Regions from separate parts of the Homo sapiens genome. Here region 1 is linked to region 2. A link means that fine-mapping ties the variant in region 2 to the expression of a gene that starts in the linked region. Tissue or cell type: sigmoid colon. Region 2 holds a variant in brackets; the other region holds the start of a gene. All regions are shown on one strand. Distances are between the middles of the regions.

What was found. PIP is the estimated chance that this variant, and not a neighbour inherited with it, causes the effect.
Region 1: it holds the start of VAMP3, and the variant in region 2 is fine-mapped to the expression of VAMP3 in sigmoid colon (GTEx, PIP 0.94).

The regions. Positions count from the first base shown.
Region 1 is chr1:7,766,642-7,774,746 of GRCh38, forward strand. It overlaps VAMP3 (vesicle associated membrane protein 3), which reads left to right and starts at 4,655. Exons shown (of 5, transcript NM_004781.4): 1 at 4,655-4,744; 2 at 6,801-6,870. The coding sequence starts at 4,743. It overlaps CAMTA1 (calmodulin binding transcription activator 1), which reads left to right. Exons shown (of 23, transcript NM_015215.4): 23 at 1-3,065. RefSeq lists enhancers at 3,859-4,555, 4,299-4,348 and silencers at 4,582-4,824, 4,789-5,018.
Region 2 is chr1:7,272,466-7,280,570 of GRCh38, forward strand. All of the region lies in intron 5 of CAMTA1 (calmodulin binding transcription activator 1), which reads left to right. Among named protein-coding and RNA genes, the nearest start is that of CAMTA1-IT1, 88 kb to the right of the region's middle. The variant T/C (reference allele first, on the strand shown) is at 3,294.

The sequences.
Region 1 (8,105 bases), 490 kb after region 2:
GGAGATCAGCTGCAGGATTTTAACAGGAATGTTTTGGTCATTGCATTTGCACTTTCATGGACAACTTTTAATTTGATCAGCAAGACATCTTGGAACTCAATCTTCTGTTGGATCACGGGAAATCAAGACACCCAGGAGGAATTGAAAGAGGCTTCCTCTTCTCAGGAAGAAGCCATTTCCTTCTCATATAGGGCTGTATTCAAACATCGTGTGGAACTGTACAAATATTTATACCAAAAATATAGATAAGAAAAGGTGGGGCTATACTAGCAACAAAAAAAGAATGCTGTTCCTGCACCTGCCGGTTATTTCCAAGAAGCTGAATCTTTGGGACTGATTCTCAGTGGAGGGCTTAGATCATACAAAAATCTTTATTGGGTCCGTGTGTTCTCATTTCCTTCACTGTTTATTTTTGTTTGTTTGTTTGTTTGTTTTAATCTCTACAGCACATTTAATGCAACTTTTGAAATCTGCAGGTTTTTAATGTCTTGTGGAAATTTGCAGAGGGGCAGGTGTGTGGTAAACGGGTAATGCATGGGAAATAATGAGAAGCAGCTCACAGAGTTTAAACTATTTTCTTGTCCCCACCACCTTCCAAGAACCTGCGAGGGTAGTAATCATCTTGTCCCCTTTTTCATGTTCAGCACTTTAATTTTTTTGCCTTACTTTCATGTGCAATGAGAATTACTTAAGAATTGGTAACGCATGTAGCCTTTTTTAGTAACCTTGGAAGCTGTAGTAATTCTAAGGAATCATGAACCTTGCCTGGACATTTGCCACCTAAACGATCAGTGTGGTGCTGCGTTCTGGCCAGTAAATTCCATGTTTTTGGCTATATCTCATCCAAACTGAGCAGTTTCTGTGTATATATAGAAGGTAGAAATGAAAAGTGAGAAAATATTTGAAAGGGATTATATTAATTGCTAAATATTTTATTCACAAAGGTCAATAACATGGCAAGATAAAATTATTTGTATAGTTTTGTCTGAATGAGCGAGAAAAATGTGGATGTACTGTTTGTATATATTGTATATATTAAAACAGAGATATGTGCATGAAATCAAGAAAAAAGAAATGAACAAAAGCAAAGCATTAGTGGCTATGGTCTGTAAAATGAAACAAAAAAACTTTATTTCACTATAAGAGTACTTTATTTTAAATGTTCTTTAGGAGAACATTTTGCTAAAGCATGACTAAACTGCAAAAAAAAAAAAAGAGCTACTGTATTTAGACTTAGGAAAAAAGGCAGAGTAACATTACTTAAAAAAAAAAGGATATGTTTACATTTAATTTTGGCTACCAGGAGTTTAGTTTATTTTATTTAAAATTTTTTTGCCAATGGTGCCAAGTAATGTGAATGCTAATACTGCTTAAGAAAATTAAGTTACTTTTGCAAAACAGATAATCATAAGATGAATCAGTATGTAGCTTAACACCATCCACTCACTCCAACAAAGAACACTTAGAATGATAAAAAAAAAAAAAAAAAACCTGACAAAAGAAATAGTATGAAAAGTAGAAAAATGTCACGTTTCCATATCTCCTGCTGGAAATCAGAAAATATAATAAAATTGCACAAAAAAAAAAATGAAAAAGATGCAGACTGGTCTTTTAGAGACGGCATGGTATATTACTATTTCCACATAATGAGGAGCCAAAGAAATCTGATGTTTTTAACAATTAAACTGCTAATGTTAAATTGAGAGAATAAAGTTCGTATTTGCTGATGCCAGTTTAAAATTCCCAGGTTACGTCTGAGGATCAGTTGGTGTAAAGCTGAGATGTTTTTTCTTGGTTCTGGCTGCCAACTGTGAGTTAAAACTCAAGGCTTGTTGTGAAGCCTAAAAATATTCACAAATAAGCTTTTAAACTGGTGTCTTTGGAAGGAAGGTAGATACAAAAAGATTGTGGTAAAAACTGGGGTCAGTGCTCTTGGTGCCTTTTCTATAATTGTACTTGTTTTTTAATTACTTCCTTTCACTGCCAACCTCGAATTACTGTACAGTATATGTCTTTCTGCTTGTGATCAGCTTTGACAACAGTGACAGCCCCACAACTAGTAGCCACCTGTACATTTGTAAACTGACCTGACTCCATTTTGTTTTTAAATGTGTGGGTTATGTTGCAGCTGTTGCAGTCCCCCAGATACCTATTATTTTACACAATTTGACCTATAGGAGGACACTGAGTAATTTACAAACACAACTGCATTCATAAATGGGAATAGAACGTGAAAGCCAGCTCTTTCAGAATATCCTCTATTAATACTGAATTTAGATATCTTTATTCCATTTATTATGGTACAAATAACTGATGTTTTAACCAGAGTAATGACCTCAGTGGATTTGCTTTAACCCTCACATTTTTTTTTTAATGTTTCACATGTTACATTATTAGCTGAATACGTTAGAAAATGACAGATGGTAGAGACTTCCATAGAATTAAGAGGGTTCTCATGGAGGGGATAGGAAGTAGGTTTAAAGCCTACCAGTGTAACCTACCAGTACAACTGTGAATCCTAGGCGAGGCAAAAATGCACTTCCACTGAAACGAAGCATTTCTGACCGCTTTTTCTTGGTTATGAATCTTAATTTCGAATATAAGATGATAGGTAAGCGCAGCTTTCTTGGATAATCTGAATTCCCAAGTGCCAGGAGTAGGATTTCATTATAAAATTAATAGCTAATCTTATTCTATCTCCTGAAGATTTAATTGCTATTGTTACCCATTCGAAATCAGCTGTACTGTGTGAACGAAATAAAGACAATAATACGAACCCCTCTCTGGCTGCACGGTCGCTTATGGCAGTTCCACACAGTAGTTGGCGCCCAATGGGGGGTCCCTGAGACTTGCATGTAAAACTAGTCTAGATGTCTTCTTTTTTTGTAAGTTTTATTTTTGTAATTGTGCATGTAAAGCATCATTGAATCAATGGATCTGTTGAAGAACTCAGCTGCTGGAAACCATGCAAAATGTTTTGAATTGCCCTTAAAATATGGAAAATGTTTTCTGAATGCTTTATATTCTTTCTGCTGTAAATTAAAAATGAAGAAAATTTCCCCATACTACGTGTGTGTTTTGCTTTAATATGACCGGGTAGTGAAATCTAAGGTGATGGGCACATGTTTCAAAACATATGTAATAATGTCAAGGATTTCCTTCTGATCCAGATGTAATGTTTTGACATTGAATGTTACATTGTTTCAGCTAGGTCCATGAAAGAAAAAATGTCTTCCAGCCACCATTCAGAGAGCTTTTCCCCTATCTTTCCAGGCACCTCTCAACATGTCAATCATTTGTGTAAGGCAGTGCAATTATTTGAAAGATAAAGACATTAATTTAATTCACCTTTTCAGTTACAATCCTCTAAAGTCTTCTAAAAGGCATTTTCCAGCAGATTACGAACGTCGTCCTTTCTGAGTATTGTGTCATCGCCGCTCCCTTCCCGTTCACTGCAGAGCCTCTCCTTATCTCCCTAGTGCTCCCTCTTCCATCTAATCCATCTGGCCACTACTGCCAGAGAAATTTTGCATCATGGATCTCCCACGTCCGTAAGTCAATGGTTTCCAGGGCCCACTACAATTAAATGACATTTTTCTTGTTTGTTTATCCTCTTTATTCAGTCTTCTTTTCACTTGTACCCAACCTGCACCCTCTAGGTGGTCTGTGCACACTGCGTCCATTTTCACTGCTGTCTTTGTTCATGGTGTTTGCCCAACCCTTACTTGGAAAGTTCTTTTCCACTAGTACCCAGCTCAAATCCCACCGCCTTTGTGACACTCGTTTATTCGATATATACTAACGTTTCCCTTTTCAAAGTATTCTATTTAGAGTTGGAAAAAACAGCATAGTATTTAAGTACTGTATTTTTCACTTCTCATCTAAGAGACCCACCAATGACCTATTAGTGTTTTATTTTTTGGTGTAGGTAACTATGTTGGTAGGAATATTTCAGTAACAAATATATACAAGGTAACTCACTGCGTTCAGATTTGTGCTTCCCTCCCTTCGACCAAAACCTGAGGACCTATTCTGTGCTAGGGCCTGAAAATACAGAAATAAAGGAACTACAGCCTTGATGCCAAGGCTCTCGTAAGCAGATTATAATATGATCTGCAGTGACAAATATTTGTGTCACCGATGAAAACATGAGCGGGAACCTCACCCAACACCATGTGACAAATACCCGAAATGGACTTCCTATTTCAACTACTTTAGAGAAACATGGTGCCCTCAGGATCACTAGGTTACTCTGGAACACTCAGCAGAAGCCAGTCATCTGTCTCTAATACTGTTAGAAATGGTCCCGAGCCCAGAATAACATGAATTGCCCCCACCCTCACTTATCCACGCAGTCCCTCGCCAGTGGCTAATGCACCACGTTTACAGACCACGTCCCCAAGCGCCAGCGCGGACGGCGGTGCGGACAGGGAGCTGTATTGACCTGCGTTCTGCGTTTCAGAGCCCGGACCGCCCTGGGACCCCTGTGGCCCTCAAGTTCCCAAGTGACCTCGTCCGGGGAGGGGACGTCTCGCTCTGACCCCGCCCTGGACGCACCCACCCACGACGCCCCCGCCCACTTCCGGCGCGCCCCCTCTTCGCCCCGCCCACTCCCCCGGCTCCGCCTAGTGACGTCTTTGCCCCGCGCCGCGCCGTCCCACCCATCTCCCTGGCCTCCGGTCCCAACTTCGCTTCTCTGCTGACCCTCTCTCGTCGCCGCTGCCGCCGCCGCAGCTGCCAAAATGTGAGTGACGCTACGCGACGCGGGCGGCTTCGGGCCCCGCAGGCGGCAGCTCGCGCTGGGACCGCCATACTGCCCAGTTGCCGCCGGCCGCCACTCGGACGCAGGCCGGGGCTGCGCGGGGATCCCGAGGCCTGGGGGTGGGCGGTGGCCCTTGGGTCGCGGGCTGCAGACGGGCCGGGCGGGTCCCGCGGCCATCGGGCGGACGCGGAAGGGGCAAGGGCGGGGCGGCGAGACGCTTCCCGGAGGAAGTGAGCTGCCCGCCCGCAGCCCGCTCCTCGCCCCTTCCCTTTCTAGTCCCCGACGTCCCTGAGAGGAATGGGGACGACAGCCCTGGTTCGGGAGCGCCCGCTCTCGGCCCGGTGCTGCGCTGGGCCCCAGAAGTTGCGAAAGAAAGGACCTCGGCCCTGTCCTGAGCCCCTGTGGGCCGAAGAGCTCCTTGCCTAGCTAGGGGCATCTGCACTGGAAAGATCACTTAACCGTGGGCCTTCGCTCTCTTAAGCGAAAGCACGTTGCAAACCCCTGCTTCCAGTGGTAAGACTCAGAGAATGCTAATGGTTAAGAATCACAAGGACTCCCTCTTCCACCTCCATTCTGCTCATTGCTCACCGTCGGAGGAAGCCCCGGGTTTCTTCCAGGAGCTGGGGACCCCCCTCGAATGTTCCTGCTGAGGCTGCTGTGCCAATAGATCACAGTGGTTAAGATCTAGAGCCAAGGTACACAGGACCTGATCTAAAAACAAGCTGTCCTGCAGCCAGCTGTGTTGACTCTCTAAACCTCACTTTACTCATTTGTAAAATAGGAGTAATATTCCCCTCAGAGAGTTATGAGGGTTAAAGGAGGAAAAGCATGGAAAGAGTCTAGCGCCACGGCATGGTCCTTACTTATCTACCAGATACTAAACTCCGTGAGGACGGTGATGAGATCTGTTGTAGCCCTGGTCATTGACACATGACAGATGTAAAGTGACTGTTCAAACAGCCCATCAGACTGTTGTATACCAAGGCACATGCTAGGTGCTATCTAGGATACAGAGAAGAGAGTAAGAAGACCCAGGAACCTGTGATCTATTCGAGGAGGCGGGACTTTATACCTGAAAAACCAAAGTGATACTTTCCAAGTAATGGAGCCAATAATGACTTCAGAGTCAGAGTGGTTAAGAAAGATCTGCATGGGGAGAAATAAAGCCTTTGATGAAGATTTTAAAAGATGAGTACCTTCCTGGGCCGGGCGCGGTGGCTCATGCCTGTAATCCCAGCACTTTGGGAGGCCGAGGTGGACGGATCACTTGAGGTCAGGAGTTCGAGACCAGCTTGACCAACATGGTGAAACCCCGTCTCTACTAAAAAATACAAAATTAGCCGGGCGTGGTGGCACATGCCTGTAATCCCAGCTGCTTGGGAGACTGAGGCAAGAGAATTGCTTGGACCCAGGAAGCGGAGGTTACAGTGAGCCGAGATCGCGCCATTGCACTCCAGCCCGGGCAACAGGAGCGAAACTCCGTCTCTCAAAAGAGGGGGAAAAAGAAAGAGTACCTTCCTAAAAGAGGAGGCATTTCTTCAACACACCTTTCCACTCACACCACCCACTCCCTGCATCCCAGTGTTCCTGACTCTGTTTCTGTAAATTAATCTATTTTTCCATATTGGAAAAAGGGCATTCTGTAACTGTTTGTAACTATGAAAACAGTTCCTTCCACAATGAAAAGATCAGGAAAGTACTGAGTACATTCAAGCAGATGTGTGCCTTAGAACAAGTTTCAAAAAAGGACAGTAGAGCTTACCTATCGTGGGATCAGATACTTCAGGGATACAAAGTAGGTCCTATTAAAGCTTAACATTTGTCCCTTTAGTAGGTGGGACAGTCTTGGAAATTATAGAGAAATTAGAAGAAATGCAATTAAAACTTTCGTTCATTGCTTCAGGAAGAATTTCTTTTTCTGTTTTAGTTCTAATGTAAGAGATTGTTAACAGTGAGAGTCCCGGAGTAACATCTTTATACTTAAGAAAATGTATTTGGAATCGTAATGTACTCATGCTCATGCCTTTACATGTTCCAGGTCTACAGGTCCAACTGCTGCCACTGGCAGTAATCGAAGACTTCAGCAGACACAAAATCAAGTAGATGAGGTATTGCTCTGAAATGTTGGAAATATGAATTTTAAACAAATATGAGTACTCTGGAAATCTGTTTAGAAAAAGTATCATCAAAGTGTGAATGTAAAGCAAATTCTGACTGTATCATAATTGTAACGAAACTTTGCTCCCTGCTGTGCTGGAAGATCTAATCTAAGCAAAAGTCAGACTTTCTAGGTTTCACGCTTGTTTTCCTGTGATAGAAACCTGCTCATAACATTTAGCTCAGGAGAAATAAAAAATCATATGCCTAAAACATGAACATCACTCCCTGAGTGCATTCCCCAAGAAGCACTTTATAAAATCGGATAATACAATGTTAAGGATTAGGTCTTTAGATTGCTCAAGCCAAGACCAGTTCTTCTGATCAGATTTTTTTATCAAAATGCTTTGTCTTCTTACTAATTGTCCAGCCTGAGCAAGCCTCTCTGTAGAATTCATCTCTAATGGTTGTCCATTGACACACACAAAGTAGATACTGTCAAACTCCATTAGCTCAGCAAATCTCTGTTTGTAGAATTCTTGAGCTAGAGGACCTCCATCTTTTGTTCTGCGCCGTATGTGGAGAACCACAGCAGAAGATTGAGAAATTCAGACTAGTGTTTCCACATTCCTAAAAGCCGTCACTGTCCGACAAATATATTTCGGTCTTTCTGCATTTAGCTGCCCTGAAAAAACAGTTAAAGTTATGTCAGATACTGTTGTTAAATAATATAGTAATGTTTTGATCTGATGGTTTTGTTCATGAACTTATACAATTTTAGATTTTCACAGTAAGAAACCCATTGTAATTCTGTCCTGCCTGGAAATTCTGTTTACTTACAAAATCAAATTGGATTTTTTTTTTTAGCCAAAGGAATTTTAAGGAGAGTTGTTTTTTTATTGAGGCAAAATTACCATAACATACAACTAAACATTTTAAACTGTATATAATTGAGTGTTATTTAGTATATTGATAATATTTTGCAACCATTACCTCTTTCCATTTTCAGAACTTTTTCATCACCCCAGAACACCTCATGCCCATTTAGTAATCATTCACTATTTCCCCTTCCTCCCATTCTCTGGTTACCTCTAATCAGCTCTCTCTTTCTGTGGATTTGCCTGTTCTGGGTATGTCATATAAAAGGAATCATACAATGTGTGGCCTTTTGCATCTGCCTTCTTTCACTTAGCACAAAGTTTTTTGCATTCATTCAAGTTGTAACGTGTTGTACCGTGTTCCTTTT
Region 2 (8,105 bases):
GAGAACTAAAAATTCTCAATTTCAAAACTTACTGTAAAGCTATGGTAATCAAGTCAGTGAGGTATTGGCATAAGAATAGACGTATAAATCAATGGAATAAAATTGAGAGTCCAGGAGTAAGTCTTAGCATTTATGGTCAATTGATTTTCAACAAAGGACCAAGACAATTTAATCATGATAGAATAGTCTTTTCAGAAAGGTTCTGGGGCAACTGGATAAACACATGCAAAAAAAAAAAAAAAAAAAAAAAAGAAAAGAAAAGAAAAGAAATTGGACCCCTGCCTCATACCATACAGAAAAAATAATTCAAAGTAGATTATAGACCTAAATGTTAAGAGCTGAAACTATAAAAGTCTTAGAAGATAACATGGGAATAAATCTAGTGACTTTAGGTTGAGAAATGATTTCAATGTTTAACATTCTGAGGAATTCTTAGAACTTAACAATTAAAAGAAAAATAATAGAAATGGACACATAATTTGAATAGATATTTCCCCAAAGAAGATATATGAATAGCCAATTAACACACGAAAATATATTTAACAGCATCATTAATCATCAGAGAAGTGAAAACCACAACAAGATACCACTTCTTACCCACTAGGATGGCTATAACAAAAAAAGAGAGATAATAGTAAGTGTTCACACACGTGGAGAAATTGGAACCCTCACACACTGCTGATGGTGATCCAAAATGCTGGTGCTGCTGTGGAAAACATTCTGGCAGTTCCTCAGAATGTTAAACATTGAGTTACCAGAAGACCCAGCAATTTCACTCATAGATATGTACCCAAGAGAAATAAAAGCATATTCACAGAAAAACTTATACCATTATTAATCATAGCAACAAGTCAAAACAACTCAAATGTCCACCGACTAATAAACAAAATGTAGTCTATCCATACAATGAAATATTACTTGGCAATAAAAAGGAATGAGGCACTGATAACATGCCACAACGTGGATGAACTTCTAAACGTTATTCTAAGTGAAAGAGGCCAGTCACAAAAGACCATATATTATGTGATACCCTTTATATGAAATGCCCAGAATAGGGCAACCTATAGAGACAGAAAGCAGATTAATAATTGCCTAAGGCTGGAGGTGTGTGTGTCAGGTAGGGATGAGGGGTGACTGCTAATGAGTATTAGGTTTCTTTTTGGGGTGATGAAAATGCTCCAAAATTAGCTTATGGTGACAGTTTCACAAGGCTGTAAAATACTAAAAGCATTGAAGTACACTTCAAAGAAGTGACGTTTATGGTGTATAAATTATAGCTCAAAAATATGTTTAAAATAAGATAATTGATTGTCTAAAACATAAGTAATAACATTATATAGAAGCAAAGTGTGTGACAACAATGATACAAAGGAAAGCAGAGGGAAGTGGAAGTATATTGTTGAAAGATTCTTACATTTTTGGTGAAGTGCTCTAATATTTGTTGAAGGTAGAATACTATGATTGAAGATATATATTGCAAATCCTAGAGCAAACTACTAAAAATGAAGAGATATAGGAATAAGCCAATAGTGGATATAAAATGAAAGACTCAAAAATATTCAAATTAATGAAGTCAGGAAAGAGGAATATGAAACAGGACAAGTAGAAAACAGTGTTAGATGGTAGAGATAAACCCAGCCATATACATAATTGCATCAACTGTAAATGGCTTAAGCATTCCAATTAAAAGCTAGAGAGTATCAGACTGGACAAAAAAACCATAATACTCAATGACATGCTTTCTACAAGAAACACTTTAATAATAAAGGCACAAATGGGTTAGAAGTAAAAAGATGGGAAAAAATAGAGTGTGCAAATACTAACCATAAGAAAACTAAAGTGAATATATGATCAAGCAGAGTAGACTTCAGGACAAGAACTATTACTCAAGATAAAGAGAGATATTTTATAATGATAAGAGGGTCAGTCCGTTAGGAAAACATGACCGTCCTGTCTATGCACCTAATTACACAGCTTCAAAATACATGCCAAAGTGACAGAATTGAAAGGAAGAATGGATAAATTTCACAATTGTAGTGGGAGATTCTTTTCTCAGTGATGCATAGGAGACAGGAAATCAGTAAGGACATTGAAAACTTGGATAACACTATCAAACAACTCGATCTAATTGACATTTTTGAAATAAATACCCAACAGTGGCAGAATATACATTCTTTTCTTACACATAGAACATTTATTAATATAAACTATATACTGTGTCATAAAACAAATCTCATTACATTTAAAAAGATTACTGCTTCTCTGACAGTAACTGAATTAATTTAGGATTCAATAGCAGAATAAATATCTGAAAAATTCCCAAATATGTGGAAATTACACAACATACTGCTTAAGGTAAAAGAAGAAATATTATAAAGGAAACTAGAAAATATTGGCTGAGCGTGGTGGCTCATGGATGTAATCTCAGCACTTTGGGAGGCCAAAGCGGGCAAATCACTTGAGGTCAGGAGTTCGAGACCAGCCTGGCCAACATGGTGAAACCCCATCTCTACTAAGAATACAAAGATTAGCTGGGCATGGTGGTGGGTGCCTGTAATCCCAGCTACTTGTGAGGCTGAGACAGGAGAATTGCTCGAACCCAGGAGGCGGAGGTTGCAGTGAGCCGAGATCGCAACACTGCACTCCTGCCTGGGCAGGGAGACAGAGTGAGATTCCATCTCAAAAAAAAAAAAAAAAAGAAGAAAGAAAATATTTTGAAATGAATGAAAATTAAAACCCCACATAGAAAATGTATGGAGTACAGGGAAAGCAGATATTAGAAGGAAATTTATAGTTTGAAGTGCTTACACTATATTTACATTAAAATCAGTAAATGTAATTGATATTAACAAAGGTTTAAAATGTGACCTAAACTTTTACATGTAGAAGCTAGAGAAAGAAGAACCAATTAAAACCAAAATAAGTAAGGAAAAAGGTAATATTAAAATAAGAATAAAATAAATGAAATAGTAAGTAGACAAACAATAGAAAACATTAATAAAACAAAAAGCTATCTCTCTTCAAAGATCAATAAGTTGAAAAATTATAGCTAGCTTGATTAAGAAACAGAGAAATATACAAATTATTAATATGAGTAAAAAGGATGCATCACTACAGATGCTATACACATTAAAGGTAACCTAAGAGGTGTCAGAAAAGGATATCATGAAAATTTTATGGAAATAAATTTGGCAACTTCAATGAAATGGACAAATTTCTTAAAAGATAAAAATTCTTAAAACTGACACAAAATGGAAAATCTGAGTAGCTCTATATTTATTAAATTAAGTTTG[T/C]AATTTAAAATCTTTCCCCAAAAAGAAACCTCCTTCATGGTGAATTTGATTTAAAAAAATTTAAGGCAAGAATAATGTTAGGCTTACCAAACATTTTCAGAAAATATAGGATGATAGAACACTTGTCAGGTCATTTTATGACACCAGGATATCTGATACCAAAACCAGGTAAAGACGTTACAAGAAAACTACAGACCAATATCTCTCATGAACATAGATGTAAAAATCCATAACAAGATATTAGCAAATGGAATGCAGCTATAAGTAAAAAGGATAATACACCACGATTAATTATGTTGATTGAAGGTGTGCAAAGTTGGTTTAACATGTGCTAATCAATGTAATTAATTGTATTAACAGAACAAAGAATATTGACCATATAATCATCTCAACAGATGAAGAAAAAGATATAATTCCATACCCATTCATGATTAAAAAAAAAAACCTTTCAGCAAACTAGATATAGGAGAGAATTTCCTCAATCCAATAAAGGAAATCTACAGAAAGCCTACACCTGATCATATATATATATATATATATATATATTTTTTTTTTTTTTTTTTCTTTTTGAGACAGAATCTTGCTCTGTCACCCAGGCTGGAGTGCAATGGTGTGACGTCGCCTCACTGCAACCTCCGCCTCCTGGGTTCAAGCAATTCTCCTGCCTCTAGCCTCTTGAGTAGCTGTGACTACAGGCGCCCGCCACCATGCCTGGCTAATTTTTGTATTTTTAGTAGAGGAAGGATTTCACCATGTTAGCCAGGATGGTCTCAATCTCCTGACCTCGTGATCCGCTTGCCTCGGCCTCCCAAAGTGCTGGGATTACAGGTGTGAGTCACCGTGCCCAGGCACCTGATCATATTTAATAGCATATTCTTGTACTTCCTTCTAAGACTGGGAAATCATCAATGTGTCCACTTTCACTGCTTCTATTCAATATTCTACCGGAGGTCCTAGGAAGTTGAATAAGGCCAGGAAAAGAAATAAAAGGCATACAGATGGAAAAGAAAGGAGTGAAATTCTTTTTATTTGCAGACAACATGATCATGTGCATAGAAAGTGTTAAAGAATCTAATAAAAATTACTGGAACTAGTAGATGAATTTAGGAAGGCCAAAGGAACAAGGCCAATATTTTTTTGAAGTATATTTTCACATATTTGCAATGAACAATTGGAAAACAAAGATAAAGAAAAATACAGTGTAAAATAACATAAAATATTCCTTGAAATATTTTAGGATCAAATTAACAAAATATGTAAGACCTGTACCCTTAAAACTATAACACATTGCTGACAGAAATTAAAGAAGACTTAAATAAATGGAGTGATATACCATGTTCATGGATTGGAAGACTCAGTGTTGTTAAGATGGCAGTTCTCTCCAAGTTGATCTATAGCTTCAATGCTATCCCTGTCAAAATCTCATCAGACTTTTTTGTAGAAACTGGCAAGCTATTTTTAAAATTTACATATAGCATAAGAATGACCAAGAATAGCTAAAAGGATTTATAAAAATCAAAGTAAAGTTAAAAGAATTGCCCTACTTAATTTCAATACTTAATCTAAAGCTACAGTAATCAAGATGATGTGATACTGGTATCACTGAGTTGATATTCCAAAGAGGTAGATTTCAGGGTTCAGTTTCTGAACTTTCTGAGGAGCCAAACTAGAGAACTAAATTAATCTTTCCAAGCAATGGTGTGTGTGTGTGTGTGTGTGTGTGTGTGTGTGTGTAAGAGAGAGAGACTCATTCTCATTCTCATTCTCATTTTTGAATTAACTTACAGATAAACTGAGTTTCCCAAGAAGGCCCTCCATGGCAGACTATATATCATCTCCTCTCTATCTCCCCCTTCTCAGAATAAAAGCAGTTTTTTCTTCTTTATGGTTTGAAAATGAATTTATATTTATTGTAGAAGACTTCAGATAGTAGATAAAGACAAGGAAGACATTGATATAATGGCCTATGATGTCCATCTTTCTGAATGCTTTTCACATACACACACATACACACACTTTTTTTTTTTACTAAAATAAGGGGTTATATCATATATGCTATTTTGTATTTTTTTACTTGACTCCATGTTAAGTGATTTACATATTTTTAAATGACTCTGTGTGATATCATATACTTAACCTGTTCACTGACATTAGACATTGAGACTATTACTACTATTTGCCATTAGAAATCACACCGTGAGAAAGATCCTTGTATCTTTATTTATAGTAAGCCCTCAACAAATATTTATTTGAGGAGTTACTAGGTACCAGGCTTTTCATACCTGAACAATTGTTTTCTGGAGAATATTCCTAGAAATGAAATAGTAGTGCTGGGTTAAACGATATAACTGCCTAAAAATTAGCTCCATATGGCTACATCATCCTTCAGAAAGGCTGTGTTAATTTACAACTGCTCTAGGGATGTTTGAGAAGTCCTGCTGATTAACAAACATGCCCCACCCCACAGGACTTGGCGCAGGGTGGGGGCCACACCTGGTGCCTAGTGTTATTGACTTAGTGATGGGTGAAACCTTTTGTTCAGCAAAAGTCATTTGTACCACATCACCATGGGGATGTGTGTAAAGCATTCATCTAGCTCATGGAGGGGAACTGTACAGCTCACTCTAGTGTCTTCTCAGAGTTCTGTAGTAAGTTTTCCAACTTGCCATTCTGCCATTTATTAACTACAACAATAAAAAAATGGAAGCTACCCTTTACTACAATAAGTGCTTTTCAGGCATTATCTGAATTTTACAACAACTCTGCAATGTTTCATCGATGAGAAACTGAGGCTCAGAAAGTTTAAATAATTTCCAAGGTCACTTAGCTCGTCACAGATCCGTGGATCAAATGCCAGGGTCCAGCTCTTTCTCTAAGTCCAATCCTGAGTTTTTGACTTGAACTTGTCAGTCTTCGTTTTCTAATCATCCTGATTCTGGGGTTCATTTACTCTAGAAATATTTATTGAGCACCTTCCACAGGCCAGGAAGGGGAATAGTGGAGAGCTGCGTTGACAAGGTCTTGGCCCTCACGTAGCTTCCAGTCCGGTAGAGGAGATACAATTTAATCATCCAATTGTATGAAAAAACTGTGATTACTGCCATAGAGGAAAAGTGCAGGAACTCTAAGATCTGAGAGCAGGAGGATATGATCTAATCTGGGGATCAGAGAGAGAAGCTCTGAAGAAGTGATGTTTCACTGAGGTTGCCAGTTAATGGGGCTGGGGAGGGCCATGAGGAGAAGGGGAAGGCATTTGGTGGGGGAAAGGGATATGCAAAGGCCCTGGGGGCCTGAGGAAGTGTGTGCTGGAGGAAATGAAGGGTGGGCAGTTCAGGTACTTAGAGCGCAGAGCCTGAGGGGGCTGGTGAGCAGGTGGGCACTGAACCCCGCAGTGCACCTATGTGAAAGTGTTTGGAATGTAACCTGAGAACGATGGGGCCCATGAAAGCTTGTAAGCAGGGCAGTGTCATCCTCTGATTATTGTAAAAACATTGCCCACGCTTCTGCCAGGCACATCCACTGGGGTGGGAGGCAGATTCACATGGGAGGGATGACTTATTGGTTAAAATAGGTGGTCCCAGTTCTGTTTCTCTTCTCCTTATTTTTCTTTTCTGGTGAGTTTCTTCTCCCTGTGCTAACATTCTGGGCCTCAGGCTTAAGTAAGAGGCAGATGGCCCGGGTCTTGGAGCAGGGAAGCCAGGGGACCGGCAGCCCCAAAAGCTGTCAATGTCATAAGTCATCCTTGCAGAGCCGCAGCCACCTTCTCGGCAGAATGTCAAGCAGCTCGGTACGGGGAGCAGCTGCTCTGCATGGCTCTGAGCATTGTCAGAACACCATAAACAAAATGGTCAGGTTTCTGCAGAGATAACCTCCTGGCCTCCGACCCCATGCGGCACCGTGCCGAGGGCCAAGCTCTCTCTTCGGCATCTGTTTTTGGTACTTCCAAAGCCCACAGTGTGGGGCTTTGGGACGTTTTCAGCCTGAATGCTAAAATGCCTGGAATCAAGGCAAGAGGAGGACTTTGAGAGTTGGCTTCCCTGTGTCTGTTCCCTGGAATGAGAAGAAGCCTGAGCTACAGCCTCAGGTTACTGCTGGTGGTCCCTCTAGACCAAAAAAAAAGAACTTGCCAAGAGAGACCCTTAGTATCCAGAGTCCCCTCCTCTCCTGGGGTTGGAAGGGAGAGCAGGAAGAGGGAGTGGCCTCTATGCCAGCCAGGTCCAGAGCGGGAGGGAGTGAATTGCACCAGGGAAGGAGCCTGCTCGTTGCTGGTAGAACTTGCAGCATCCAGACAGACCTCTCAGCCCTCTTTGGATGCCTTTATCCTTGCAAATGTCAGAGATGCTGGCTTTGCAAAAACCAAAAACCAAAACCCAGTAACCAGTCTTCCCAGCCTGATGTGTGTCTGTGCCCTTTGCCCACCTGGGCACTGAGGCACCAAGGCACCTGGCCTCACACTCATTTCCTTTGCCCCATCTGGCTCGCCAGTCAGCGAGAAGCCCTCTGGTTTTCTGAATTGCGCCCACCAGGGAAGGAACACTGAAGATTTCATCTAGTCAGCTTTCCCTTGGCTCATTTGAGGAAGTGCTAGAATGCTTCCCAAGCTCCCTGCTTATAGGGTAAGACCCTCCTGTCCCAAGTATGACATCCCTGGGGTTAGTAAAAGTCTATGACCTTAAGAAGAGGTTTCTGCAGAAGCAGCTTGGCTCTGGCTGTGCACTGCTGAGTGTAATGGTGGCAGGATGCTAAGGGTGGGCCCAGGGTGCCACGTGGATGTCAGAAAGAGCAACCAAGGGCAAGCCCTTCTTGGAGAGG